4 linked regions of the Homo sapiens genome follow. The protein of the gene in region 4 interacts with the protein of the main gene of each other region in a biochemical or structural test. Each region holds a gene or a part of one and is shown on either strand. Other genes may lie near its edges. The genes, in order: MARK3, PLK3, PIN1 and CDC25C.

Region 1 (7,391 bases), on a different chromosome or scaffold from region 4:
CTCCAGGTAACTCATAGAAGAGGGATCATACAGAATTTGTCCTTTTGTGTTTGACTTATTTCACTCATCATAATGTCCTCAAGTTTCATCTGTGTTGTAGCTAATGTCAGAATTTCCCCTCTTTTTAAGGTTGAATAATATTCCATTGTATGGACATACCACATTTTGTTTAGCCATTCATCTATGGATGGACACTTGGTTTGCTTTCACATTTTAGCTATTGTGAATAATGCTGCCATGAACATGACTGTGCAGATATTTCCTTGAGACTGTGTTTTCAATTCTTTTGGGTATCTATCTGGATGTGGGATTATTAGATCCTATGGTAATTCTATTTCTAATTTTTTTCAAGAAGCATAATACTGCTTTCCATAGAAGCTGCACCATTTTACATCCCCACCAACAGTGCACAGTTTCCAATTTCTCCACGTTCTTGCCAAAATTTGTTATTTTCTGCTTTTTTGGTAGCAGCTATCCTAATGGCTTTGAGACTCAGTTTCTCGTCTGTCCCACAGGGACATAGTAGGGCTAGATTATCTCTAGCTTCTGATGTCTCATGGTGCCTTCCTTCTTGCCATGAAAGTAAGTATTGCTTATGCACATATACATCTTAGTAAATTTAGTTATATCTTTTCAGCTTGGGGCCCCAAGGTAGAAACTATTTTAATATGAAGACAGGAAACAAGAAATATGAAAAGGGATTGAAGAAGGCATTCCAAGGACAACTTCCAAACCCTCCTCTCTATTCCTTCCAGACCATAGATGCACATAATTCTGGGCCACAGAGAGTCCTTTGGACAGAACAATACTTTACTGTTTCTTCTCTTCCTCTCCTTTTCTTTTTTGCTTGTAATTCACACACCCAGGTGGCTAGGCGCAGTGGATCACACCTGTAATCCCAGCACCTTGGGAGGCAGAGATGGGAGGGTTGCTTGAGGCCGGAAGTTCAGTCTGGGCAAGACTTGGTCTCTAAAAATAAATTACCTAGGTATGGTGGTGCATACCTGTAGTCCTAGCTATTCAGGAGGCTGAGGCAAAGAATCACTTGAGCCCCGGAGTTCAAGGCTGCAGTGAGCTATGATCACACCACAGTGCCCCAGCCTGGACAAGAGAGCAAGACCCTGTCTGGCTCAAGCAACAACAAAGGAAGGAAGGAAGAAGGAAGGAAGGAAGGAAGGAAGGAAGGAAGGAAGGATGGATGGAAGGGAGGGAGGGAGGGAGGGAGGAAGGAAGGGGAAAAAGAGAGAGGAAGGGAGGGAGGGAGGGAGGAAAGAGAGAAAAAGGCAGGCAGGCAGGGCAAGAAAGAGACAAAGAGAAAGAAAGAAAGAGAGAAAGAAAGAAGAAAAAAGAAACACACACACCCATCTCCCACTCTTTATAGTGTCATGATGTCATTTAACATAAGTGCAAGGAAAAGTTCAAGGCGTTTAATTCTAGCTTTTACAAAACCCAGAAGCATCTTGAGTTAAGTACTATTATCTTCATTTCCTAACTTTTGGCATTCGCTGACTCATTATTTCATATGTGGCTTGGGTGAGAAAAGCATCTGGGTGGCAACCTCCTCCCCCAGCTACTTCTCTGGCCAATGGGGACTGTTCTGAACTTCCCATACACTTTCTCGCAGCTTCTGCCTGAGGCTGAAACCCTTTCTGGGGTGTTTTCCCAACTGTCATCAGGATGGGATGCAGAACCAGGTGCCATGCTCTGTCCAAACCCTGCCTGGCTCCGGCCTTCTGCAGTCTCACTTCTCACCGCTCACTCTCCTGATATTTACCCAGACCCACCGTGTGGCTTCTCATTGCGGTGCTCATCAGGCCATCCTTCTGCTTGAACTGTCCTTTCTACCCATCCTCCCACAGCTAACTCTGCTCATGCTTTTAGACTCAGCATAAACATCCTCTCCCCCAGGAAGCCTTCCCTGATCCAAACCCCCGAGTTGAGCTAAATGTCCCTGCTTGGGTCTCCCACAACACTTATGCTCACCCCGTCTTATCATAACCAACATTGCAGTTGAAGTGTGTGAAGCACACATTTAACTAATGGAATTCCACTAACTCCTCTTGGCCAGAAGGAGAAAGAGAATAACTTTATTTATTTATTTACTTATTTATTTATTTCTGAGGCATGTTCTTGCTCTGTCTCCCAGGCAGGAGTGCAGTGGGCATCATCCTTCTGCCTTTTTTTTTTTTTTAAGTTTTTGTAGAGACAAGGTCTCACTCTGTTGCCCAGGCTGGTCTCCAACTCCTGGGCTCAAGTGACCCTCCCACCTCAGGCCCCCAAGTAGCTGGGATTACAGATGTGCATGCCGTCTCCCTATTCACATTTTATTTTACTTTATTTTGTTTTTTGAGACGCAGTCTTGCTCTGTTGCTCAGGCTGGAGTGCAGTGGGCTGATCTTCGCTCACTTCAACTCTGCCTCCCAGGTTCAAGAGATTCTCTCACCTCAGCCTCCTTAGTAGCTGGGACTACAGGCACACACCACCGTGCTTGGTTAATTTTTTGTATTTTAGCAGAGATGGGGTTTCACCATGTTGGCCAGGCTGGTCTGAAACTCCTGAGCTCAGGCAATCCGCCCACCTCGGCCTCCCAAAGTGTTAGGATTACAGGCGTGAACCACCGCGCCCGGCCCCTATTCACATTTTAAATAGAACCACTCTTGGCCCCCTGACCACTCCTCTCTGAGGGTTAGATGGGAGCCCTGAGTGTTACCTTAGTCCTCAGGTGTTTTAACATTGGGAGCCTCTGGCCTCTCTGGGAGTGAATCTGGCGTTTAAAGATACATATATTTGGCCGAGCGCAGTGGCTCACGCCTGTAATCCCAGCACTTTGGGAGGCCGAGACGGGCAGATCACAAGGTCAGGAGATCGAGACCATCCTGGCTAAGACGGTGAAACCGCATCTCTACTAAAAATACAAAAAAAATTAGCCAGGCATGGTGGTGGGCACCTGCAGTCCCAGCTACTCGGGAGGCTGAGGCAGGAGAATGGCGTGAACCCGGGAGGTGGAGCTTGCAGTGAGTGGAGATCGCGCCACTGCACTCCAGCCTGGGCGACAGAGCGAAACTCCGTCCCAAAACAACAACAACAACAACAACAACAACAAACATATATTTCGTGGAGCAAGAAATGTCTCAAACATAGCAAGAGAGTTGGGATGCCAACGGACCAAAGGGAAAGCAAGCATGACATAGCCCCCCACTACAAGGGCTTACCTATTATCCAAGCTTTGGGAGCTAGGTTAGAATCCCAGCTCTGTCGCTAACCAACCTGTGTACTTTAGCCAAGTCACTGTACCTGTCTAGACTTCGGATCGCATGTGTGTCTGCCCATCTCATAGGGTTACCCTGAGGCTAAATGAGGTAACAAATGTCATGAACCCACAAGGTAGACTCGACTCTCGGTAACAGTTCGTGTCACCCCCATCTCACACTACTCTCCCTCTTCGGACCCTGCACCCATGGATTCCATCCACCGCTGGCCAGGAGCTGAGTAGAGGCACCGAGCACGTGAAGAGGTGAATGGGCAAGGAAGGCTTCCAGGTCAGGTAGCATTTCCAGTGTTCCAGCCTGCAGGCATCTACCGAGCCTGGCCCGAGGCTGGCACCCAGAGATGCTTCCAGTCTTCCAGCAGCAACGCACTGACTGTAAGAAAAGCCTGCTTATAAACCCCCTACAGGCATTTGGAAGCTGGTCCCTGGGGTCCTCTACAGATTCATTTCGCCCCCAAACCCATCCCCTTTGTGCCACCCTCGTTATTGCACTCTTCCATCCGGATGGCATTTAGCTGGGTCCGGGTCTGTCACCCGTCTGACCACCAGCTCCTTGAGGGCAAGAGGCGCCTGCTGCCCTCAGGGTCCGCGCCCAGCCCGCAGCTGCTCAGATCCGGAGACGGGAAGGTTTGTTGGCGAGAACCTGACTCCCGGGTCACAGTTAAGGATGCAAGAGCCCGGCGCCTTCCCGTAGCCCCGGCCCTGTCATTAATTAATGCTGGGGCTCCATTCGGTGCAGCGCAGTCCCAGGGATGCAACCGCAACTTTTGCGCACAATAGGCTCTCGATCTGTAATCCAGCCAACCCAGGCCTGTAGTGTGTAAATGCCAACTCAGCGGGAGGGCTCTGGCTGTCGCCCAGAGCCGTTTCTCGGCTCTTTCGCGGTTGCCGGCGCGCTCGGGACAGGAGGAACCCGCAGCCCGCGGGAGTCAGCGGAGACCCGACCAGCACTATCCAGCCCTCTGCACCGCCCCCGCGGCGAGGTCTGGACCAAGTCGCCCCTAGCAACAACAGCCGGGCCGGCTTTCTCAGGCCATGCTGATTGGCGGGACTCCGGGTGGCGGCCTGTCGTCACTTCCGGCAGCCGGAGGCAGCAGAGGAAGCCGAGGGGCGGCCATCTTGGCTCCGTGAGGCTCTGAGGTGCCGGGGTGCGGCGGCGGCAGCGGCGGCCAGCAGGGCGGAGGCTGAGGCAGCAAGCTCGCTAGAGAGGGAGAAGCAGTCGGGCGCAGGCGCCTCCTCCGCAGCCCGCTCCATGGTCGGCGCCCACAGCCCGCGGCGGCCTGTCTTGCGCTCCACTTCCTTCACATCCTCCTCCGCCTCCTCGTTTTCAGGCGCCGCCGGCGGCGCTGTGTGGAGGCCCGCGAGCTGAAATTCGCGGTGCGACGGGAGGGAGTGGAGAAGGAGGTGAGGGGGCCCAGGATCGCGGGGCGCCCTGAGGCAAGGGGACGCCGGCGGGCCGAAGCGCAGCCCGCCGCCCGCAGGCTCGGCTCCGCCACTGCCGCCCTCCCGGTCTCCTCGCCTCGGCCGCCGAGGCAGGGAGAGAATGAGCCCCGGGACCCGCCGGGGGACGGCCCGGGCCAGGCCCGGGATCTAGACGGCCGTAGGGGGAAGGGAGCCGCCCTCCCCACGGCGCCTTTTCGGAACTGCCGTGGACTCGAGGACGCTGGTCGCCGGCCTCCTAGGGCTGTGCTGTTTTGTTTTGACCCTCGCATTGTGCAGAATTAAAGTGCAGTAAAATGTCCACTAGGACCCCATTGCCAACGGTGAATGAACGAGACACTGAAAACGTAAGTAACCTGGGCGTTGTAGTTGGCGGACCTTCGGGGTGGCATTCGTGCTCCTCGGGCAGTGCCTTGCAGTCGGGTGTTCCCCCCAGCCGAACGCTCTGGAAATAGAGGGCAGGCCGTAGTCACCCAGGAGGCAGCCAGGTCGGACCGTTTCCTCCAGAAGTCTGCCGTGTCCCGCTGTTCGCGGGCGGGTCTGCGAAGTACATCGATTATGCCGGCAGTCTAGTCGGTTAATAAAGCCCAGGAGTTGCAGCGTTACGGATCGGTGCTTTGAGAGGCCAGGTTGCCGCGCAATGGATTGTGCAAACGTGTGTGTCAGATCACTGCAGTGGTCAGTGCTTATTTTAGCCGAACTCTGCTTTTAACTTGGTCAGGCAGTTCTTGAGAGACTGTCACATTAATAACATATGTTACCGGTGCTGATTAAGAGTAATCGATTGGGTCAAGTGGGCGGTCTCGTTCTTTAAGATGGTCTGGAACTAAATTTAATCACAGTCACTAAGTGTCCACTGAGGGATCTTTGCGGTCCCCTTAGGAATTCCAAAACACTAGCGCGCAGCCTTTATTAAGGCAGTTTCCTTTCCATACAAATCTTTTTTGAAGGAGTTGGTTAAACATTTTGAAAAGCAGATGTATAGTGAAGCTCTGCTCTGCCACTCACTGCCTAGCTGAGGGACACCCGCTGGGGGCTTCGCTGTCCTCCTTCCTAAAAAGAGATTGGCTTAGATGAGCTCTTAGGTCCCTTTCAGCGCTCACAGGCTATGGTTTTATAAAAGGAACCTTTGATTTTGTTCATGTGAAACTACAAAATGCCAGGAACAGCATTGCTAGAGAATGAGAACTTGTAGTAGAAATTCCATTGAAGAAACGTTTGACTCTGTTCGTTTTCTAACTCTGTTCTCCTCTAACACTGGGTTCAAAAGTGTTTCAATCTAGTTGTTGACTATATTCTGTAAAACATCTAGTAAATAATTTGTAAAGAAACTTCACTGGCCTTTCATTAAAAGTGTTATGAGGTAATTGCTGGCACGAAATGTCTTCTCTTAGGGAATGCTTCCTTGCTTTGAGTGTTTTCATGCTTTCAGTAATGTCCTGAGATGTTGTGGCCTAGTGGAGTTAATGCTTTCATTTTGATCTTCAAAAATGCCGCTTGTTTGCTGGATAGCTGTTTGATAATTTAATCCGTAAACGTAAACCATAGCCTAAAGCATCCCTGTAGCATATTAGTATACAATATTTAATGCTCTGTGGCCCTGAGTAAGTAGAACAGTGATGTACCTTTCTCCACCTGAGATAGATTAGAAAATTATATAAAGAGTGAGTAATAGAAACTCTTAGACTAGGTGAGTCAGGGAACTAATTTCCTTATAGTCCTTTTAAAGAAACCTTATTTATTTGTTTATTTATTTATTTATTTACTTATTTATTTTTTGAGACAGACCGAGACTGTCTCCCAGGCTGGAGTGCAGTGGTGCGATCTTGGCTCACTGCAGCCTCCACCTCCCAGGCTGAAGTGATTATCATGCCTCAGCCTCCCGAGTAGCTGGGATTACTGGCGTGCACCACCACGCCCGGCTAATTTTTGTATTTTTAGTAGAGACAGGGTTTCACCATGTTGGCCAGGCTGGTCTAGAACTCCTGGCCTCATGTGATCCACCCGCCTCGGCTCCCCAAAGTGCTGAGATTACAGGCATGAGCCAGTGTGCCCAACTGATTAGTTTTGATCATTGATCTTCACTCAGAGAAGCAAAACCTTACATTGAACCAGAGTAGGAGCTCCATGCTTTCTAAACTGAAGCCAAAAACAGTCATAGCAGATTTGTGATAATGAAGGATTTCAAATGGGTCTTTTTTCTTTCTTTCTTTTTTGAGATGGAGTCTGGCTCTGTCTCCCAGGCTGGAGTGCCGTGGCATGATCTCGGCTCACTGCAACCTCCGCCTCCCGGGTTCAAGTGATTCTCCTGCCTCAGCCTCCTGAGTAGCCAGGATTACAGGCATGTGCCACCACTCCCGGCTAATTTTGTATTTTTAGTAGAGACGGGGTTTCTCCATGTTGGTCGTGCTGGTCTCAAACTCCCGACTTCAGGTGATCCTCCCGCGTCAGCCTCCCAAAGTGCTGGGATTACAGGCGTGAGCCACCACGCCCAGCCATGTAGTGTATTTAAAATGAATTTTTGACTTTTTTTAAAAATCAAGTTTATCACACATCGTTGCATTAATTTACCATGCCCTGTTACATTTTTAACTCTTGCATTGGCATGTTCTGGAAGGAGCTGTGTAGCTTTCACAGTGTGGAGCCCTTGTGTCAGTGTTATAACTCAGGTATAGTCCATATT
Region 2 (7,506 bases), on a different chromosome or scaffold from region 4:
TCTTTCTGCCAAAGAGGCTCTTGGTAACTTTGGCAAACAGACTCCTAGCTGGGTTGGGGGGTGTCAGGTCTGGGACTGTCACGCAGCTGCTGATAGGGAGTCGATCGGGGGTGTAGCCCTAGGGAGGGGAACCATGTGAACAGAGAAGAGAGGCTCCAGGGGTCCTGTCACCTGCCCCCTTTCAATCCCTGGGAATACACAGATGGACTTAGAGGTCTGGGGAGCCACAGACCTTGGTAAAGAAGTCATGGCGCAGGATCTGGTCAATAGAGGGGCGGTCTCGGGGTGAGGCCCGAAGGATGGCGGCCAGGAGCTGCCGGGCAGGCAGTGAGAGGCTGGCAGGCAGCGTGTAGTGAACCTGCTTGATGCAGCGGTACGTCTCCTTCAGGTCAGCCGTCTCAAAGGGAGGGCTCCCGCAGAGCAGCGTGTACCTATAGGGCAGGGCCAAGGGGTCAGGAGTAAAGTGGAGGAGATGCTCCACCCACACACCCACCACCTGTCTGCTGCTGAACCTGGACCCTGCAACTCACATGACACAGCCCAGTGACCATACATCCGCCTCAGGGCCGTGGCCCTGTCTCAGCAGCACTTCTGGAGCCACATAGTTGGGGGTGCCACAGATGGTCCTGAAAGAGGGTGGGGAGGAGGAGAGAAGGCTGAGACCCAGCCCAGCAGCCCCCCGACTCCTTCCCCCACTGTTAGTCCAGACAAAGCAGCTGCCTGTCACCAAAGGCCAGAGAACTCCTGCTTGTCCTGGGACAATGGATGCCAGGGATGGCAGCTGAGTCCCCGCCCACCCGCCTGGCCCAGCTGCTCAGCTGCTCTTCATGACAGGGGGAGGGCCTGACCCCCAGCCCAGTCCTCTCCTCTAGGGTCAACACAGAGAGTCCACAGCTGATCCCTTCCCCCTTCCTGCACTCCTGTCTGTCAGACAGGCATCAGGCTGTCACCTCCCACGGTTTGTGCCACACACACACCAACACCAGCTGTCACAACCCCCATAAACACTCATCTGCCACATACGCTATCTGTGTCACACACACAAAGTATGATGGCCACAGCAGGGTCTTCTTACACCCACAATGTCATATCCCACCATTTCCACACTCTCAGTCTGTCTCTCACACACACATACACGCTGCCTGTCACCTTCCCCCATCCACACAAAGGGTAAGTCATGTGCCTCCAAGAATCTGTATACCCCCATCTGTCTCAGGGACTCAGAGTCACCTACCCTATCTGTGTCATACACCTATAGGATCCTCCCCCTCTCCACCGGTCTCGGTAACACAGGCTGCCACCTCCACCTTCACACATGCATGAACAGCCCATCATCCCTTCCCATTTATCTCATGCACACATCAGGCAGTCACCTTGCCTCCCACATACATATGCACTGTCTATCACGCATGTCATCTGTATCACACACAGGGCCCCTTTCCTCAAAACTCACTTCTTCCTCTGCTCCGGAGGCTCCAACCGGGCTGCCAGCCCAAAATCCCCCACCTTCAGTTCCATGTTCTCAGTGATGAAAAAATTTCCTAGATGGGGCAAGAGAGGTGTGTCAGATTCTTTCCTTCCTCCCTCCCTCCCTCCCTCCCCAACCTCCCATCCTCCAGGCTCAGGAGTCTCACCCAACTTGAGGTCCCGGTGCAAGATGCCGCGCTGGTGCAAGTACTTGAGGCCAGAAAGGATCTGCCGCAGGTAGTAGCGCACTTCTGGCTCCAACAGGGTGTGCCGGGCCTTCCAGATGTGGGCCAGGGACTGCAGAGAGCCACTGCCTCAGCCCCTGGTGAGCCCTCCCTCCCCCTCCCCCTCCATCTGTGCTCCCTGAGGAAGAAACAGGGCCCCAGCTTTGGGTCTTAAGACTGTCTTCTCGGCTGGGTGTAGTGGCTCACGCCTGTAATCCCAGCACTTTGGGAGGCCAAGGCAGGTGTATCACAAGGTCAGGAGTTTGAGACCAGCCTGACCAACAGGGTGAAACCCTGTCTCTACTAAAAATACAAAAATTAGCCGGGCGTGGTGGTGCATGCCTGTAATCCCAGCTACTCAGGAGGCTGAGGCAGGAGAATTGCTTGAACCCGGGAGGCAGAGATTGCAGTGAGCCGAGATCGCGCCACTGCACTCCAGCCTGGGCAACAGAGCAAGACTCCATCTCAAAAAAAAAAAAAAAAAAAAAAAAGACTGTCTTCTCTCCCTCACTCTCATCCCTGCGGGAATCACCATCTTTCACCTTTCGGCTGCAGAGCTCCAAGAAAATGTAGATGTTGTCAGCGTCCTCAAAGTGGTGCGAAAAACGCACGATGTGGCGGTGCTGCAGGTCTCGGTGCAGCTCAATCTCATTTAGGATCTGCGATGAGGGCGCGGAGTCGTCATCCTTCCATGGTTCCCATGCCACCGTCCCCACCCCACCCCTCGCCCGCTGAGCCTGGACCCACCTTCTCGCGCTGATGCGGCTTGGCGACGCGGCTCTGCGGGATGACTTTGACAGCGTAGGCGCTGCCAGTCTCTGTGTCAGTGGCCTCGTAGCAGCGGGCGAAGCCCCCCTGTGAAGAGGGGGCATCAGGCTGGTTGTTCCAGGGGGGCCGAGTCTGGCCCGCGGGCGTCCCCGCGTTGGGGGTCAAGTGCCCACGCCCTGCTCGGCGCCAGAAAAGAGGCCGGCCGGGACCCCCACCTCCACCATCACCACCCCGCGGACGTCCCTCGGCCCACCTTGCCCAACAAGCGGCCTTTGAGGTAGGTGCGGCCGCTGCGCGGGTCCGTGATGAGGCGCCCGGGGTCTGACGTCGGTAGCCCGGCCAGCATCTCCAGCTCAGGTCCGCGCAAGGCACTCGGAGGCGGCCCGGGCCCGGCCGGGGGAGCGGGCGCGGCGGCCGCACGCTGGAAGGGGCGCGGAGACAGGAAACCGGCGGCAGGCTCCATGCGGCCGGCGCGTCGCAGCGCGGTCCCGGCTTCTCGGTTCCGCCCGGCCCCGGCCGCGCGTGGCGCTGCCTGGATTTGCTACGCTGCGCTGGCGCCCAGGGGAGCCCAGCGTTTTATCAATGAACGCCTGCCCCCTCCCCGGCGTCTGGTCACCGAGAGTCCCGCCCCCTTCCTAGCAGCGAGTCGAGGAGAGGCCACTCCCATTCCCGGCCTTACATCACCCAGAAGCTCCTCCCCCACCCAACGCACTGCCAGACCCCGCCTCCTCGCCGCGCCCCGGGGCGCAGCCCGGCAGCTAGTCACCATGCAGGTGCAACCAGGCCGCAGGGGCCAGCTGATCCCTGTCCGCCTCTCACCCCTCCTTGGCCACTGCGAGTCCCGCTCGTGGGGGCCTCTTTCTTTCCCCATCCTTCGGGATGTGTGCTGAAGTCCGAGTGGGGCCCGGGCATCTGGGGGCGTCTCCCCAGCAACTAGATAGATCAGCGTTCCAGCCAGCAGCGGAGAGGCAGGGGCGGCGCTCGCTTTTGCCCGGGCATGTTACCCGACACTCCCCTTTCAGTGTGCCGGACCGCGTGTGTCCCTCGCCCTCGCCCGGGGCCCGGCCCAGTGCTGCCCTCTTTAGGGCCTGGAAGGAAGGCACAGTCTCGCGCCTGGCTTGCCTGGCCCGAGGGCTGCCTTGCCAGGTTTAGGAGTCAAGCAGAGTCTGGAATTTCAAGGCTTTTACCATGCTCCAGGCCACATCTTCCGCTACCCACTTCTACACTCTTGAGGGGCAAATTTCGGGTTCCTCCGGGGTCCGCAATTCCCTTCCTCTGAAAATACCCCCGGGCCTGGGTCAGCAGCCAGAGGCCAGAAAGTGAATGGGAATTGGATTTTCTTTTTTCTTTCTTTCTTTCTTTTTTTTTTTTTTGAGACAGAGTTTCGCTCTTGTTGCCTAGGCTGGAGTGCAATGGCGCGATCTTGGCTCATCGCAAACTCTGCCTCCCAGGTTCAAGCGATTCTCCTGCCTCAGCCTCCCGAGCAGCTGGGATTACAGGCATGCGCCATCACACCCGGCTAATTTTGTATTTTTTTTTTTTTAAGTAGAGACGGGGTTTCTCCATGTTGGTCAGACTGGTCTGGAACTCCCAACCTCAGGTGATCTACCCGCTTCGGCGTCCCAAAGTGCTGGGATTACAGGCGTGAGCCACCTTGCCTGGCTGGGAATTGCATTTTCTCAAATGCTAGACACGGGCACTTGGGCAGCTAGTCTCTGGACCACGTGGACCCCTAGACCCCTGCGCAATGCCCACCCTTCCCAGGGCCAGAGACAGAGGCCCAGGACCACAGGCCTCCTGGCCTTGTCTCTCACCTCTCTGCCCTCCCTCTGTGCCAGCCAATCAATTACCATGCCATTCCTCAAAGATTTATTGAGAGCATCTGCTAAGTGCTGGACACTATCTCGAATAAAACTAATCAAGCTTGCAGCCCTCATTTAGTTTACATTCTGCTTGATGGAAACAGACAATAGGCAAGCAGATAAACAAGGTAATTGCAGGCTGTGAAAAGTGCTATGAAGGAAGAATAAACAGAAGAGCAAATGAAGAGCCTACTTTAGAAAGAGTAGCCAGGAAAGTCAACAAATATTTGCTGAGTACCCAATTTGTGCCAATTTTACCTCCCAAATAGCTCTGATATCTATCCCCTTGGCTCCATCTTCCCCTCACACCCTGGCCTGGGCCACAGTCTCTCTTGTCAGGATGATTGCCACAGCTCCTTGCTGCTCTCCTGGCCTTTGGTCTCATGCCCATTTCATCCCCTCCATATGCTATTAGAGGGATCCCACCCAATCCCTCATCAGACTCACGAGGGCAAACTTCTCCAACCTTGTCCTTCATGACCACTGAAGGGAGACCCACGATAGCCTCAGATGTGGAGAAATACTAGTAGCCAAAATTACTGAGGGGGAGTTGGGGATAGGGATGGGCAGGAAGACCCTAAGTGCCTGCTCAAGAGTCTGGTCTTTATCCTTATAGGTCAGCAGTCTTCCAGAGGGGAGATGGTGGTGGGGCTAGAAAGGACAAATCCCCAGGGTAAATGGATCTGAGGCATTTAGAGAGTCAAAAAGGCATATTCAATTTTGCACCGTTATTTATTTTGTTTTGTTTTGTTTTGTTTGTTTTTTGAGACAGAGTCTTGCTCTGTTACCCAGGCTGGAGTGCAGTGATGCGATCCTGGCTCACTGCAACCTCTGCCTCCCCGGTTCAAGCGATTCTCCTGCCTTAGCCTCCAGAGTAGCCAGGATTACAGGCTCGTGCCACCACGCCCAGCTAATTTTTGTATTTTTTAGTAGAGACAGGGTTTCACCATATTGGCCAGGCTGGTCTCAAACTCCTGACCTTGTGATCCACCCACCTCGGCCCTCCCAAAGTGCTGGGATTACAGGCATAAGCCACTGTGCCTGGCCCAAAATTCGTGTATATATATATATATATATATATTTTTTTTTTTTTTCTTTTTTTTTGAGACAGAGTCTTAAAAAAAAAAGAATCACTTGATCCCAGGAGGGGGAGGTTGCAGTGAGCTGAGATCGTGGCACTGCATTCCAATCTGGCAACAGAAGGAGACTCCATCTAAAAAATAATAATAATAATAAAATAAATAAATTTTGGGGCCGTGCAGTGGTGGCTCATGACTGTAATCCCTGCACTTTGGGAGGCTGAGACAGGCAGATCGCTTGAGTCCAGGAGTTTGAGACCAGCCTGGGAAGCATAGTGAAACCCCCGTCTCTACCAAAAAAATGCAAAAATTGGGCCAGCCGCAGTGGCTCATGCCTGTAATCCCAGCACTTTGGGAGGCCGAGGCAGGCAGATCACCTGAGGCCAGGAGTTCGAAACCAGCCTGACCAATGTGGTGAAACCCCGTCTCTACTAATAATACAAATATTAGTCTGGCGTGGTGGCACCCACCTGTAATCCCAGCTACTCAGGAGGCTGAGGCAGGAGAATCGCTTGAACCTGGGAGGTGGAGGTTGTAGTGAGCCAATATCGCCCCATTGCACTCCAGCCTGGGTGACAGAGTGAGACTCTATCTCAAAAAAAAAAAAAAAAAAGTTAGCTAGGTGGGCATGGTGGCAGGCGCCTGTAATCCCAGCTACTCTGGAGGCTGAGGCAGGAGAATCGCTTGAACCCAGGAAGCAGAGGTTGCAATAAACCAAAATCACGCCACTGCACTCCAGCCTGAGTATGACAGAGTGAGACTCCATCTGAAAAAAAAAATACAAAATTTATCAGGGCGTGGTGGCTCACGCCTGTAGTCCCAGCTACTCAGGAGGCTGAGGCATGAGAATCACTTGAACCCAGGAGGTGGAGGTTGCACTGAGCTGAGATCACACCACTGCACTCCAGCCTGGGTGACAGAGAGAGATTCTGTCTCCAAAACAAAACAAAACAAAAATTAGCTGGGTGTGGTGGTGCATGCCTGTAATCCCAGCTACTTGGGAGGCTGAGGTGGGAGAATCACTTGAGCCCTGGAGGTCTAGGCTACAGTGAGTCATGATCATGCTGCTGCACTCCAGCCTGGGAGACACAGAGCTTGTCTCAAAAATATATATAGGGCCGGGCGTGGTGACTCATGCCTGTAATCCCAGCACTGGGAGGCCGAGGCCGGCAGATCACCTGAGGTCAGGAATTCGAGACCAACCTGGCCAACATGGTGAAACTCCATCTCTACTAAAATACAAAAATTAGCCGGGCATGATGGCAGGTGCCTGTAATCCCAGCTACTTGGGAGGCTGAGACAGAATTGCTTGGACCCGAGAGACAGTGGTTGCAGTGAGCCGAGCTCGTGCCACTGCACTCCAGCGTGGGTGGCTGAGCGAGACCCCATCTCAAAAAAATATACATATATTTATATGTATATATTTTTAATATATATTTATATATTTTTATATTATATTTATATATCTTTATATATTTATATATTATATTTATATATCTTTATATATTTATATATCTTTATATATTTATATATCTTTATATATTTATATATCTTTATATATTTATATATTTATATATCTTTATATCTTTATATATCTTTATATATGTTTATTTATATATATTTATATATGTTTATATATTTATATTTATATATTTATATATATTTATATATTTATATTTATATATTTATATATATTTATATATATTTATATATTTTTATATATTTATATATTTATATATATTTATACATTTATATATTTATATATATTTATATATATATTTATATATTTATATATATTTTTTATATTTATATTTATATATTTATATATATATTTATATTTATATATTGTTATATATTTTTATATATATTTATATTTATATATTGTTATATATTTTTATATATTTATATATTGTTATATATTTATATATTTATATATTGTTATATATTTTTATATATATTTATACATTTATATATTTATATATATTTATATATTTATATATATTTTTTATATTTATATTTATATATTTATATATATTTATATTTATATATTGTTATATATTTTTATATATATTTATATTTATATATTGTTATATATTTTTATATATA
Region 3 (4,900 bases), on a different chromosome or scaffold from region 4:
ACAGGGCATGCAGGAATAACCACTTCTCCATCAGACCCACAGCCCCCCGACTGAACAGGGGATGGGGGTCAGGCATGCCACATCCACAGCCCCCACACTGGCGGGGGACCCCATCTCCCCGCCACCCACCCCAGGATTCCCTCTGCTCCACCTTCAGGCACTAAAAGCCATGTCTGCTCCCATCCCCCTCCCTGCAGGAGCCCCCTCCAGTCCGGGAGGGCCCTGTTGTCATGGTAACTGCAGCTGCAATGGGTGCTGGGCCAGGTGCCGGGTTGGACCCACGAACCTTCTGGAAGCCCCTGAGATGGCAGGGAAGCAGATCTCAGGGTGCTGGGCAGCTGGACAGTGCCCATGTCCCCAAGAGCCAGCTGCTGTGACTCCCCCTGGCCCAGGGCAAGGGGAAGCCTCGGGGGAGAACTTGCAGCTGGGACCCTTAGGATGGGGGGGCTATGATCCCCTCCCCACGACATCTTCCCCACTATGCTTCCCTGAGGAGAAATGAGACACAGGAGAGCAGAGCAGTGGTTCTGGGTTTAATTGGGGGTGAAAGGGTGCTGCACAGTTGCTCAGAGGGCCCATGGCTGGGCCGCATGAGTGTTCACCTTTGCGACTGAACAGAGGAGCGTGGCCTAACTAGAAACAATTCGGCCCTCGAGTCTGCCTCCAGCACCTGGGGGGACACGGGGCGGCTCTGCTGACCAGGCCTTCTCTTTGGAACACCCCTCCCACCACACTGCCCTGGGTCTGGGAGCCTCCCACCCCTGCTGAAGTCAATTCCTTAAGGGAGAATCTGGCGGTCGCAGCCCCAACTGGGGATGGACAGGGAGTGGGGACCCCAGGGCCCCCAATCTGGAAGGGCCCCCTCCCAGCCATTGTGGGAACAATAAATACTGTGTGACGGTGGCAGGGAGTGGGGGGTTCGGCCACTGGCTGGCGGGCAAGGGGGAGCTGGCCGGCCTAGCCGCCCTGCCCTGCCCCGAGGCCAGGCCTGGGCTCCCCACCCTCACTCAGTGCGGAGGATGATGTGGATGCCGGAATCCGTGAACACGGGCCCGCTCATCTCCCCCGTCCGCAGCGCAAACGAGGCGTCTTCAAATGGCTTCTGCATCTGACCTGGGAGCCAGGAGGGGCGGTGGGGGTGTCAGGGCTGGGCTGGCAGAGGCCAGGATGAGGCAGGGCGGGTGGCAGCCGCGACAGATGGGGCTCCTGCCTGCGCTGAGCCTCACACTCGTCCACACTCATCCGTCACCATGTTTATTGCCAGTGCTGAGCGGCGGCCCAGCTGGGGGTGGCAGGGCCATTAAGGAGGCCCTGGGAAGCCCGAGGACAGCATGAAGGATAGCAGGCAGGGCTACGGCCGCCGCCGTGCATTTAGGGGCCACTTCGGTAGTGAACTCGTCTCCCTGGGCCTGGTTCCCAGCCCTGCCATGTCATCTGTCCCACCAGCCTCCTCGGAGGAGGTGGGCAGCTGCTGGCCCCATGCTGCCGCCCCACCCCACTAAGACACCTGCACACCACACCCTGCAACCCATCCTGGCCTCTCCCTGATGTTTTTCTGTAGACCCCGAGGACTGAAGAGGAGGAAGAGGAGGAGGCCTAGTCCCCTCTGTCCCTGATTTCCACTGTCCTGGCCAGACAGGCCTAAACTCAGGGCCACCTCCTCTCACCCCTGGTTTCCCCACCTTTGAGAGGGATTCTGGGGGACAGGCCCTGGGACTCTCAGGGCCCTCAACCTTAAACCACAAAAAGGAAGAGGCAGAGGACAGGATGTACCCACCTTGGTGGGCCTGGGATGAGGACATCTGTGCACAGACACACAAGAGACCATGCCCCCCAGGGTAGAGATGATGCCAGGAAGAAAGTGCTGCAGCCCCCCTCCCTGTGTGGCCCTGGCCCTGCCCAGCAGAGCAGCCTCTGAAGCCTGAGGAAGGGGCTGTGCTGCCACCTGCTGGACCCCGAAGGCCGGTGTGGCACCTGGGAGCCCAATGCCCAGACCCTCCTGGCCTCTACCCCTCAGGGTGGTAAGGGTCCCCCAACCTGGTGAGGCCCATTCCTTGCGCACCTCTGCTGAAGGCACCCAGGTCTCCCCTGGCCTTGGCTGAGCTGCAGTCGCTGAACTGTGAGGCCAGAGACTCAAAGTCCTCCTCTCCCGACTTGATCTTCTGGATGTAGCCTGTGGACATGGAACGGAATGGGAGTGCCAGGTCAGGGGTTGGGGGGGGCCTGACCAGACAGGATGGAGGACTCCAGAGCTGGCCAGCGGGGGAGGCAGCACTTCAGTTGGAAAGCCTCCCCTCACAGGCGCACATGCTCCCCACAACCCCTCTCCTCACACATACCTGCATGCGCAGTCACACCTGTCCTCACCCACACCCAAGAAGAGGTGCCTTTCACGAGCATGAGCACTTAATGCACCCCGCCAGTCATCCATGAGCCCTGCCACCCTGCAGGTCTCACATCCCTGCTCCCGCTGTCACTCTCACCAGCACACACACATGCACACACACACACACACGTGAGGGAAAATCTACATACAAGCTGGATGGGCCAGAGGAGAGCAGCAGGCAGGGAGAGGCTGACCCAGGCAGGGGGCTGGCCCCCCGGGCCCCCTGGGCAGAGGTGGGAGAGCTGTCCAGAGAAAGCCCAGCACTGCCACGGCAGCCTGTGGCCCCAGCTGTCCCATCTGGGAAGAACAGCCTGGCACTGGGATGGGCCTCCAAGGCACCCTGGTGGGCTCTGCAAGGGACACTCGTGGGCTGTAGCCCCAGGGTCCCAGAGGCAGGCAACATAGCTCTTCTCCCGGCTCCCCACCTACAGTCTGCATGCTGGCAGAACTCAGGGTGGCCCCACCCTGTGTGGCCCAAACTAGCCCATCGGCTCTGACTCTCCAGGAGGCGGAGGAGGCCAGGGCTGGTGGAGTTAGGAGGAACAGGGCTGCCAGCAGAGGGGGCAAGACGGCAGCAGAGTAGCATCTGAGTGACTCACGTTTCGGAAGCCAAGTGGGGAGGGCTGCGTGTGTGTGCACGTGGTGTGTGTGGTGTGACTGTGTGTGAGCAAGTGTGTGTATGCAGTCTTGTGCACGTGCCAGGTCAGGAGGAATGGCTACCGCCTTCCTGACTCCAGGCCACCCCCAGGAAGGTGCCCATGGGCCAAAGCCTGCCCTACCCCAATCCTCTTGCTCTGACACAAACGGGCGTCCCTTCCAGTGTCCTCCCTAGGCCAGTGGTGCGACAGCCCCAGCAAGCCAGGGCAGCCCTCTGGGTGAACTGCACCCGCCCCGTGTACCCTAAGGCCTGGCAGCCACTCTCCAGGGACACCAGTTCTTCTCTCCAACGTGAAGGTCACCCTGACACACTCAGTAGGGGGTTTCTTAATGTCACCCTGACACTTCTACCCTTGCTCCTTCTGACCTAAATGATGCCATGACACACCTGCCGGCCAACTTGCCCAGGACATACATAGCTGATACACTGGCCTGGAGCCTGTTGGAGACCCACGGGAACACTGCTGGGTGACCTAGCCAGTGCTGGGAGGCCTGGACACCCAACCGTGGCACCTGCTGAACACACTGGACTGATCCAAGTGTCCCCAGGGCCCCTCGGCCTCACGCTCTAACCTGCTTGGGACTGCAGTGGAAATGGTACCACCGTGAGAGCACAGCCATAGCTCCCTGTTTGGCTGCACGTCATGGCAGCCACCAGTGTCCTGGTATCTGAGCTGGATGTCACCACGACCTGCTGCCCTGACATCCCTGTGCCCCTCCGCCTGACAGTCTTGTGCCAGTGGCTGTGACATGCAGCATAGTGCCCGGCACCGAGCAGGACCCTGACCAACGTCCCTTGCTGTCATCATTCTTCCCCTCCATGGGGACTGCATCCCAGGGATGACGCAGCCTCTACTGCTCTGCTCTCCCTATCCTTGGCCCTGCCGGCCCACGTGTCCTGGTCTGACAGGGACATCGATGCCATACAGGGCCCCAGCTTCTGTTGGGATGGCACATTACAGAGGCTTCTGCCCGTGATGCCCTGGTTTGATCAGAATGCCCCGCTTCCAGGGCTGCCACGGGGTCCTCCTCTGTGCCAGACACATCCACCAGTGACTCCGACTTAAACCAGATGTTGCTAGGACCCCCTCCCACCCCTCCTCTCCCTGAACTTCTAGGTATCTCCTTGGCCTTAGGCACAGAGCACTGGAGTCCCCTGTCCCCCCTTCTGTCTGGACCACTAAGCCAGCCAGGGGATCGCACGGTGCCCCCAGAGGTACCCACCTACTTCGGGGAAGCAGGACTGCCTGCAGGCACTGAGCGTCTGAGGAGCCAGGCCCAGGCCCTGAACAAGCATCACCTTGCCACAGCCCCCAGCGGCCAGGGCTGGGGACACAGCCACAGGGATCCCTGAAATTGGACAGCCCGCCCAAGTTGTCCTCTCTCACACACATAGTGTGCAAGCCATACCACTTAAAAACAAATAAAAGCCACACTTTGGCACACCAATAGCTCATATCACCCAGATCTGCCTCTGACCTGCCAGCTCTCTTGGAAAATTTTCTGCTATGATGGGAGCCTGCAATGACTGTTTTTGTTTTCCTTTTGCAGAGATGGGGTCGCACTTTATTGTTCAGGCTGGCCTCAAACCCCTGGGCTGCAGCAATCCTCTTGCCTCAGCCTCGCAAGTAGCTGGAATGATTTTTTTTTTTAAAACGCTTTCTCTTGAACCTGGGAGGTAGAAAGGTACAGTGAGCTGAGATCGTTGCCACTGCACTCCAGCGTGGGCAACAAGAGCGAAACTCCATTTCAAACAAACAAACAAACAAACAAACAAACAAAAAAACGCTTTCTCTTGAAACTGGGAGGTAGAAGGTACAGTGAGCTGAGATCGTTGCCACTGCACTCCAGCGTGGG
Region 4 (7,028 bases):
TTATCTTCATAGGATAGAATATGTTAAAATAGCTTTCCCTCAGGGTTGAGATTAGAAATAATAATCCAAATCTCTGGAGTCCATGGTCTATGAAAGGCAAGTCAATGCCTGGGTAAGTTAAGACCCCAGTATTATAAGGGCACAAAAGACACTAGAGAAATTACGCATGGATAATAATCACATGAAATCACTACTAATTATTATTATTATTTTATTTTATTTTTTGATACAGAGACATGCTTTGTCGCCCAGGCTGGAGTGCAGTGGCGCGATCTTGGCTCACTGCAAGCTCCGCCTCCCGGGTTCACGCCATTCTCCTACTTCAGCCTCCGGAGTAGCTGGGACTACAGGCGCCCGCCACCACGACTGGCTAATTTTTTGTACTTTTAGTAGAGACAGGGTTTCACCATGTTAGCCAGGATGGTCTCGATCTCCTGACCTTGTGATCCGCCTGCCTCGGCCTCCCAAAGTGATGGGATTACAGGCGTGAGCCACAGCACCCGGCCTATAATTATTATTATTTGAGACAGAGTCTCGCTCTGTCGCCCAGGCTGGAGTGCAGTGGTGCAGTCTCGGCTTACTGAAACCTCTGCCTCCTGGGTTCAACTGATTCTCCTGCCTCAGCGTCTTGGGTAGCTGGGATTACAGATGCCTGCCACCACGCCCGGCTAATTTTTTTTTTTTTTTTTTTTTTTTTTTGAGATGGAGTCTCGCTCTGTCGCCCAGACTGGAGTACAGTGGCACGATCTCGGCTCACTGCAAGCTCCGCCTCCCGGGTTCACGCCATTCTCCTGCCTCAGCCTCCAGAGTAGCTGGGACTACAGGCACCCGCCACCATGCCCGGCTAATTTTTTCTATTTTTAGTAGAGACGGGGTTTCACCATGTTAGCCAGAATGGTCTCGATCTCCTGACCTCGTGATCCGCCCACCTCGGCCTCCCAAAGTGCTGGAATTACAGGCGTGAGCCACCGCGCCCGGCCCTGGCTAATTTTCATATTTTTTTTTCAGTAGAGATGGGGTTTCACCATGTTGCCCAGGCTAGTCTGGAACTCCTGACCTCAAGTGATCAGCCTGCCTCAGCCTCCCAAAGTGCTGGGATTACAGGTGTGAGCCACTGCACCCAGCCACTACTAATTATTTTTATTTTTATTTTTTTTTCCTTTTTTTTTTGAGACAGTCTCACTTTGTCACCTGTCCATTCACTGCACTGGAGTGCAGTGGTGTAATCTCAGCTCATTGCAACCTCTGCCTCCCAGGTTCAAGCCATTCTTGTTTCTCAGCCAGGTGCCACCACGCCTGGCTAATTTTTGTATTTTTAGTAGAGACAGGGTTTTGCCATGTTGGCCAAGCTGGTCTCAAATCCTGGCCTCAGGTGATCCACCTGCCTCAGCCTCCCAAAGCGGTGGGATTACAGGCATGAGCCACCATGCCTGGCCTGCTAATTATTTTTAACATAAAATAAACTATTTTACCATGTATGTATGTGTGTGTGTATTATTTATTTGAGACTGAGTCTCCATCTCAGCTGACTGCAGCCCCAGACTCCTGTGCTCAAGCAATCCTCCCAATTATAACTCACTGGAGCCTCAGGCTCTTGGGCCGAGGCGATCCTCTTGCCTTGGCCTCCAGAGTACCTGAGACTACAGGCATGCACCACCAAGTCCCAGCCATTTCTTTTTTTTGGTTGGGGGGTGGGGTAGAGATGTGGTCTTGCTGTGTTCCCCAGCTAGGGAACTCAAAGTCCTGGACTCAAGCAATCCTCTCACCTCAGCCTCCCAGAGTGCTGGGATTACAGGGATGAGCCACAACATCTGGCCTAATTAGCATTTTCCCTCAAACTAGACTGCTCAGCAGAAAGTAATTTTTTAAAAAATTCCATGAGAAGTCCAGGTATGGTGGCTCATGCCTGTAATCCCAGCACTTTGGGAGGCCGAGGTGGGTGGATCACAAGGTCAGGAGTTCAAATCAGCCTGGCCAATATGGTGAAACCCCGTCTCTACTAAAAATACAAAAATTAGCTGGGCGTGGTGCCACACGCCTGTAGTCCCAGCTGCTCAGGAGGCTGAGGCAAGAGAATCTCTTGAACCCGGGAGGCAGAGGTTGCAGTGAGCTGAGATTGTCCCACTGCACTCCAGCCTGGACAACAGAGCAAGATTCCATCTCAAAAAAAAAAAAAAAACAAATTCCATGAGAAGACTGGGCAGGGTGGCTCACACCTGTAATCCTAGCATTTTGGGAGGCTGAGGCAAGTGGATTGCCTGAGCTCAGAAGTTCAAGACCAGCCTGGGCAAGATGGTGAAACCCCATCTCTACTAAAATACAAAAAATTAGCTGGGCGTGGCAGCATGCGCCTGTAGTTCCAGCTACTCAGGAGGCTGAGACAGGAGAATTGCTTGAACCAGGGAGGCAGCGGTTGCAGTGAGCTGAGACTGCGCCACTGCACTCCAGCCTGGGTGACAGAGTGAGACTCTGTCTCAAAATAAATAAATAAATAAATAAGTAAATTCTATGAGATTTGGATTGCTAATGAAAATGTAAATTCTTGTAACTTTTTTAGAAATGAATCGGAGAAAGTATCAAAACCTTAAGGCTTGAGCCCAGGAGTTCAAGATTTGCCTAGGCAACATAGTGAGACCCTTATTTCTAGGGAGAGGAAAAAAAAAAACTTTAAAAATATTGATGCTGTCGGGCATGGTGGCTCACGGCTGTAATCCCAGCACTTTGGGGGGCAGAGGAGGGCAGACTACGAGGTCAGGAGATCAAGACCATCCTGGTCAACATGGTGAAACCCTGTCTCTACTAAAAATACAAAAATTAGCTGGGTGTGGTGGCACGCACCTGTAATCCCAGCTACGTGGGAGGCTGAGGCAGGAAAATCGCTTGAACCCAGGAGGTAGAGGTTGCAGTGAGCCGAGATTGCACCACTGCACTCCACCCTGGGGAACAAGAGCAAAACTCTGTCTCACCAAAAAAAAAGAAAAAAAAGTGATTATAGGCCAGGCAGTGGCTCACACCTGTAATCTCAGCCCTTTGAGAGGCCGAGGCAGGTGGATCACTTGAGGTCAGGAGTTTGAGACCAGCTTGGCCAATAAGACAAAACCCCGTCTCTACTAAAAACACAAAAATTAGCTGGGCCGTGGTGGCACGTGCCTACAGTCTCAGCTATTTGGCAGGCTGAGGAACAAGAATCACTTGAACCCGGGAGGCAGAGGTTGTAGTGAGCTGAGATTGCACCACTGCACTCCAGCCTGGGCGATGGAGCGAGACTCAGTTTCAAAAATAAATGAATAAAAAGTGATTATAAATGGAGATTAGAAGGACAGTATTAAATCAAGAAAAAACTGATAAGAACAGCCGAAAACATGAGTTTATCTTAAGTCAATGTAAGAAAAGAAGAGCAGCTATCTTTTATGGTAATGATTTGGGGAAAGGGATGGGAGGCAGGGAAGAAAAAACGATGTCTAGAAAAGGGGCTTAGATGAGGGATTAGATACAGAACTATCTTAGTGATGAGGTGGCTCCGGAGAGGCTAGATTTAACTTGGAACGACGGATGGCCTAAGGTTTAGATAAAAAGTACCATGGCCTCCTCGGAATAAGGGCTTAAAAGCTAGACTAAGGGGGAAATAAGAAATTAATCTACACTTGCATGTAAAGTGGTAAAAAAAAATCCATGAACAAGTTATGCAAGTTATCCCTACCTGTTAAAACAAACAAACAAACAAACAAAAAACTCCTAAATCCCTTACACTACAGTAAGGGTAATTTTTGTCCTCAAAATGATCAACTGAACATGAGAAATAATGATGACCTACTGTGGAAGATTTGGAGCTGGGTGTCTGTCCTAGGGCCAAACTTTAATAAGAAAAAACAAAAACAAAGAAATTTTCTCCCCTATAGTAATACAGTTTCCTTGTCTAGCATACGAGGTATAAACAGTTCTATGTCTCATTATGATACCAAGTTTCTTCACTCAAAAAATAAAACTGCCAATATATCTAGGTTTCCATTAAACACTCACATTTTCTTTATTTGCAGATGAACTACACATTGCATCTCTCTTTCTATGGCCACGGTCCAAACCATTCGGAGTGCTACAAAGAAGCTGTGCCTAAAAAAGAGAGTTTGCTGAGAACGTCCAGCATCCTCAAGCCACAGGTGCAATGGAAACCCTCTGCCTCCCACCTGAAAAGCAAAACAAAACCCAAAAAAAGAGAGGCTACTCACTGGGCTACATTTCATTAGGTGCTGGTCATGATTCCTGCAGATTAAAACAAACTGCCTGTCAGGTTAGTCCCAAATACTGTTTGATTATTCTTCAGTGGATTGGTGCATCCCAACATTTTTCTATTTCATTCTAGGAGCCCTATTCCTAGTTGATATGTCTCTTCCAACAACAATACATAGGGTATTCTCTGTGGTAAATATCAAGACTCAAGTGACATCCTGGGGATAAGACCCTCATTTTGCCTGCATAACCATATAACATGTTCCAAAGATGAACGAGTTTTATACAATTTACAATTTACTAATTTTCCAGCACAGTGTATTGGGGCTAATTTTTTTTTTTTGAGACGGAATCTGGCTCTGTCACTCAGGCTGGAGTGGCACGACCTCGGCTCACAGCAAGCTCTGCCTCCCGGTTTCACGCCATTCTCCTGCCTCAGCCTCCTGAGTAGCTGGGACTACAGGCGCCTGCAACCACATTCAGCTAATTTTTTGTATTTTTAGTAGAGATGGGGTTTCACCGTGTTAGCCAGGACGGTCTTGATCTCCTGACCTCGTGATCCGCCCGCCTCAGCCTCCCAAACTTCTGGGATTACAGATGTGAGCCACCGCACCCGGCCGGGGCTAACTTTTTAAAAAAATTTAATTTCTGGCGGGGCGCTGTGGCCCACGCCTGTAATCCCAGCACTTTGGGAGTTCGAGGCAGGCGGATCACCTGAGGTTGGGAGTTCGCAACCAGCCTGACCAACACAGAGAAACCCGTCTCTACTAAAAATACAAAATTAGCCAGGCATGGTGGCGCATGCCTGTAATCCCAGCTACTTGGGAGCCTGAGGCAGGAGAATCGCTTGAACCCGGGAGGGAGAGGTTGTGGTGAGCCGAGATCGCGCCATTGCACTTAAGCCTAGGCAACAAGAGCAAAACTCCGTCTCAAAAAAAAAAAAAAAAAAAAAAGGCTGGGCGCGGGGGCTCACGCTTGTAATTCCAGCACTTTGGGAGGCCAAGGCGGGCGGATCACGAGGTCAAGAGATAGAGACCGTCCTGGCCAACATGGTGAAACCCTGTCTCTACTAAAAATACAAAAATTAGCTGGGCGTCGTGGCATGTGCCTGTAGTCCCAGCCTCTCAGGAGTCCGAGGCAGGAGAATCACTTGAACCCGGGAGGCGGAGGTTGTAGTGAGCCAAAATCGCACCACTGCACTCCATCCTGGCAACAGAGCGAGACTCCATCTCAAAAAAAAAAAAAAATTAATTTCTATCCTCCCTCCATGGATTTCATTATCTATCTGGGTTAGAGCATTTAAAGCAATTCAAGCTGGGCCCAGTGACTCACATCTGTAATCCCAGGACTTTGGGAGGCCAAGGGGTGGGTGGGGGTGGGGCGCTGATCACTTGAGGTCAGGAGTTCAAGACCAGCCTGGCCAACATGGTGAAGCCTCCATTTTTGTATTACTAAAATACAAAAATTAGCCGGGCGTGGTGGTGGACGCCTGTAATCCCAGCTACTCGGGAGGCTGAGGCAGGAGAATCGCTTGAACCCAGGGAGGCAGAGGTTGCAGTAAGTCAAGATGGCACCACTGCACTCCATCCTTGGCAACAGAGCCAGACTCCATCTCAAAAATAAAAATAAATACATAAGTAAAATGCTTGGTATGTGCTAGATACACAGTTTATTTACTCCTTACAATAGCTACTTTATGAGAAATGCTATTATTGTCTCCACGTTACAAATAAAAAAAATTAAGGTCCAATGAAGTTAAAAAAAACTTGTCAGAGTCACAACTGGTGAATGAAGTAGTAAGCCAGGAATCCACACACTGATTCCAGAGCTTATACTCTGTACTTTCTTTTTTTTTTTTTTTCTGAGACGGAGTCTCGCTCTGTCGCCCAGGCTGGAGGGCAGTGGCGCAGTCTTGGCTCACTGCAACCTCCGCCTCCTGGGCTCAAGTAATTCTCCTACCTCAACCTCCGAAGTAGCTGCGATTACAGGCATGTGCCACCACATCCAGCTAATTTTTGTATTTTTAGTAGAGACGGGGTTTCACCATGTTGGGCAGGCTGGTCTTGAACTGCTGACCTCAACTGATCCGCCTGCCTTGGCCTCCCAAAGTGCTGGGATTACAGATGTAAGCCACCGTGTCCGGCCACTCTGTACTTTCAATTACTAAGATACAGCACCTTTCACATACAAATAAAAGCCTATACATAAGTGTAGTATACCATTTTCCTTCATTTCCTTATAGATACTTCTGATTATGATGGTTAAAATGAATAGCCTTCATTTTCACAACACTATTTAGATGTGGAAAACTTAGAAACTGTTCAAGGTAAGGAACTAGGCCTCAAAGCCCACTTATACCCAGTATGAAAGGTTTTGTACTCTGCAGAGTCTGCACAGGATAAAATCTCTATGACCAGTGCTAAAAGGCTTTTGTGTGGGGTTCATTTAACAACAGAACTTACATCCCAGCTAAATGCACTTCCTGAAGTCCTGAAGAATCCAGGTGACCTGCAATCAAATATAAAGAATCAGTAAAAGGAGTTATTCTTGTCCATGCATCCTGTTTTTCCTTCAGATTTTCTTCATTACCAGTAAGCCGTATTAATTTCAAGGACTGAGCTTTTGAATACAAAGCCTCTCGATTGGTACCCATTTCATGGTACAAGGTACAATTTCACAGAAACGTAAGAATTTATATGTGTCACTAAAAGAAATCAAGTGTTGGGAAACACTACACTATGCTACCTATGGAGTTTTTTTTTTTCTTATGGGTAGAAAAGAAAGGTTATCACTCAGAAAAT

Evidence for each region.
Region 1: of the proteins of CDC25C (region 4) and MARK3, one has a biochemical effect on the other in vitro, tested with the Homo sapiens proteins (3 studies listed by BioGRID, with this or other methods).
Region 2: of the proteins of CDC25C (region 4) and PLK3, one has a biochemical effect on the other in vitro, tested with the Homo sapiens proteins (2 studies listed by BioGRID, with this or other methods).
Region 3: the proteins of CDC25C (region 4) and PIN1 interact in a test that uses a peptide from one of them, tested with the Homo sapiens proteins (2 studies listed by BioGRID, with this or other methods).

Annotation. Positions count from the first base shown.
Region 1 is NC_000014.9:103,381,026-103,388,416, forward strand, and holds the start of MARK3 (MAP/microtubule affinity-regulating kinase 3), read left to right. Parts: upstream 1-4,389; 5' UTR 4,390-5,004; coding exon 5,005-5,055; intron 5,056-7,391. UniProt on the Homo sapiens protein: Serine/threonine-protein kinase. Involved in the specific phosphorylation of microtubule-associated proteins for MAP2 and MAP4. Phosphorylates the microtubule-associated protein MAPT/TAU. Phosphorylates CDC25C on 'Ser-216'.
Region 2 is NC_000001.11:44,795,880-44,803,385, reverse strand, and holds the start of PLK3 (serine/threonine-protein kinase PLK3), read right to left. Parts: upstream 3,010-7,506; 5' UTR 2,923-3,009; coding exon 2,713-2,922; intron 2,547-2,712; coding exon 2,439-2,546; intron 2,351-2,438; coding exon 2,234-2,350; intron 1,765-2,233; coding exon 1,635-1,764; intron 1,542-1,634; coding exon 1,454-1,541; intron 627-1,453; coding exon 531-626; intron 432-530; coding exon 233-431; intron 119-232; coding exon 1-118. UniProt on the Homo sapiens protein: Serine/threonine-protein kinase involved in cell cycle regulation, response to stress and Golgi disassembly. Polo-like kinases act by binding and phosphorylating proteins that are already phosphorylated on a specific motif recognized by the POLO box domains.
Region 3 is NC_000019.10:9,845,303-9,850,202, reverse strand, and holds the end of PIN1 (peptidyl-prolyl cis-trans isomerase NIMA-interacting 1), read right to left. Parts: intron 2,174-4,900; coding exon 2,063-2,173; intron 1,114-2,062; coding exon 1,004-1,113; 3' UTR 514-1,003; downstream 1-513. UniProt on the Homo sapiens protein: Peptidyl-prolyl cis/trans isomerase (PPIase) that binds to and isomerizes specific phosphorylated Ser/Thr-Pro (pSer/Thr-Pro) motifs.
Region 4 is NC_000005.10:138,321,795-138,328,822, forward strand, and holds part of CDC25C (M-phase inducer phosphatase 3), read right to left. Parts: intron 6,736-7,028; coding exon 6,690-6,735; intron 4,261-6,689; coding exon 4,227-4,260; intron 4,111-4,226; coding exon 4,021-4,110; intron 1-4,020. UniProt on the Homo sapiens protein: Functions as a dosage-dependent inducer in mitotic control. Tyrosine protein phosphatase required for progression of the cell cycle. When phosphorylated, highly effective in activating G2 cells into prophase.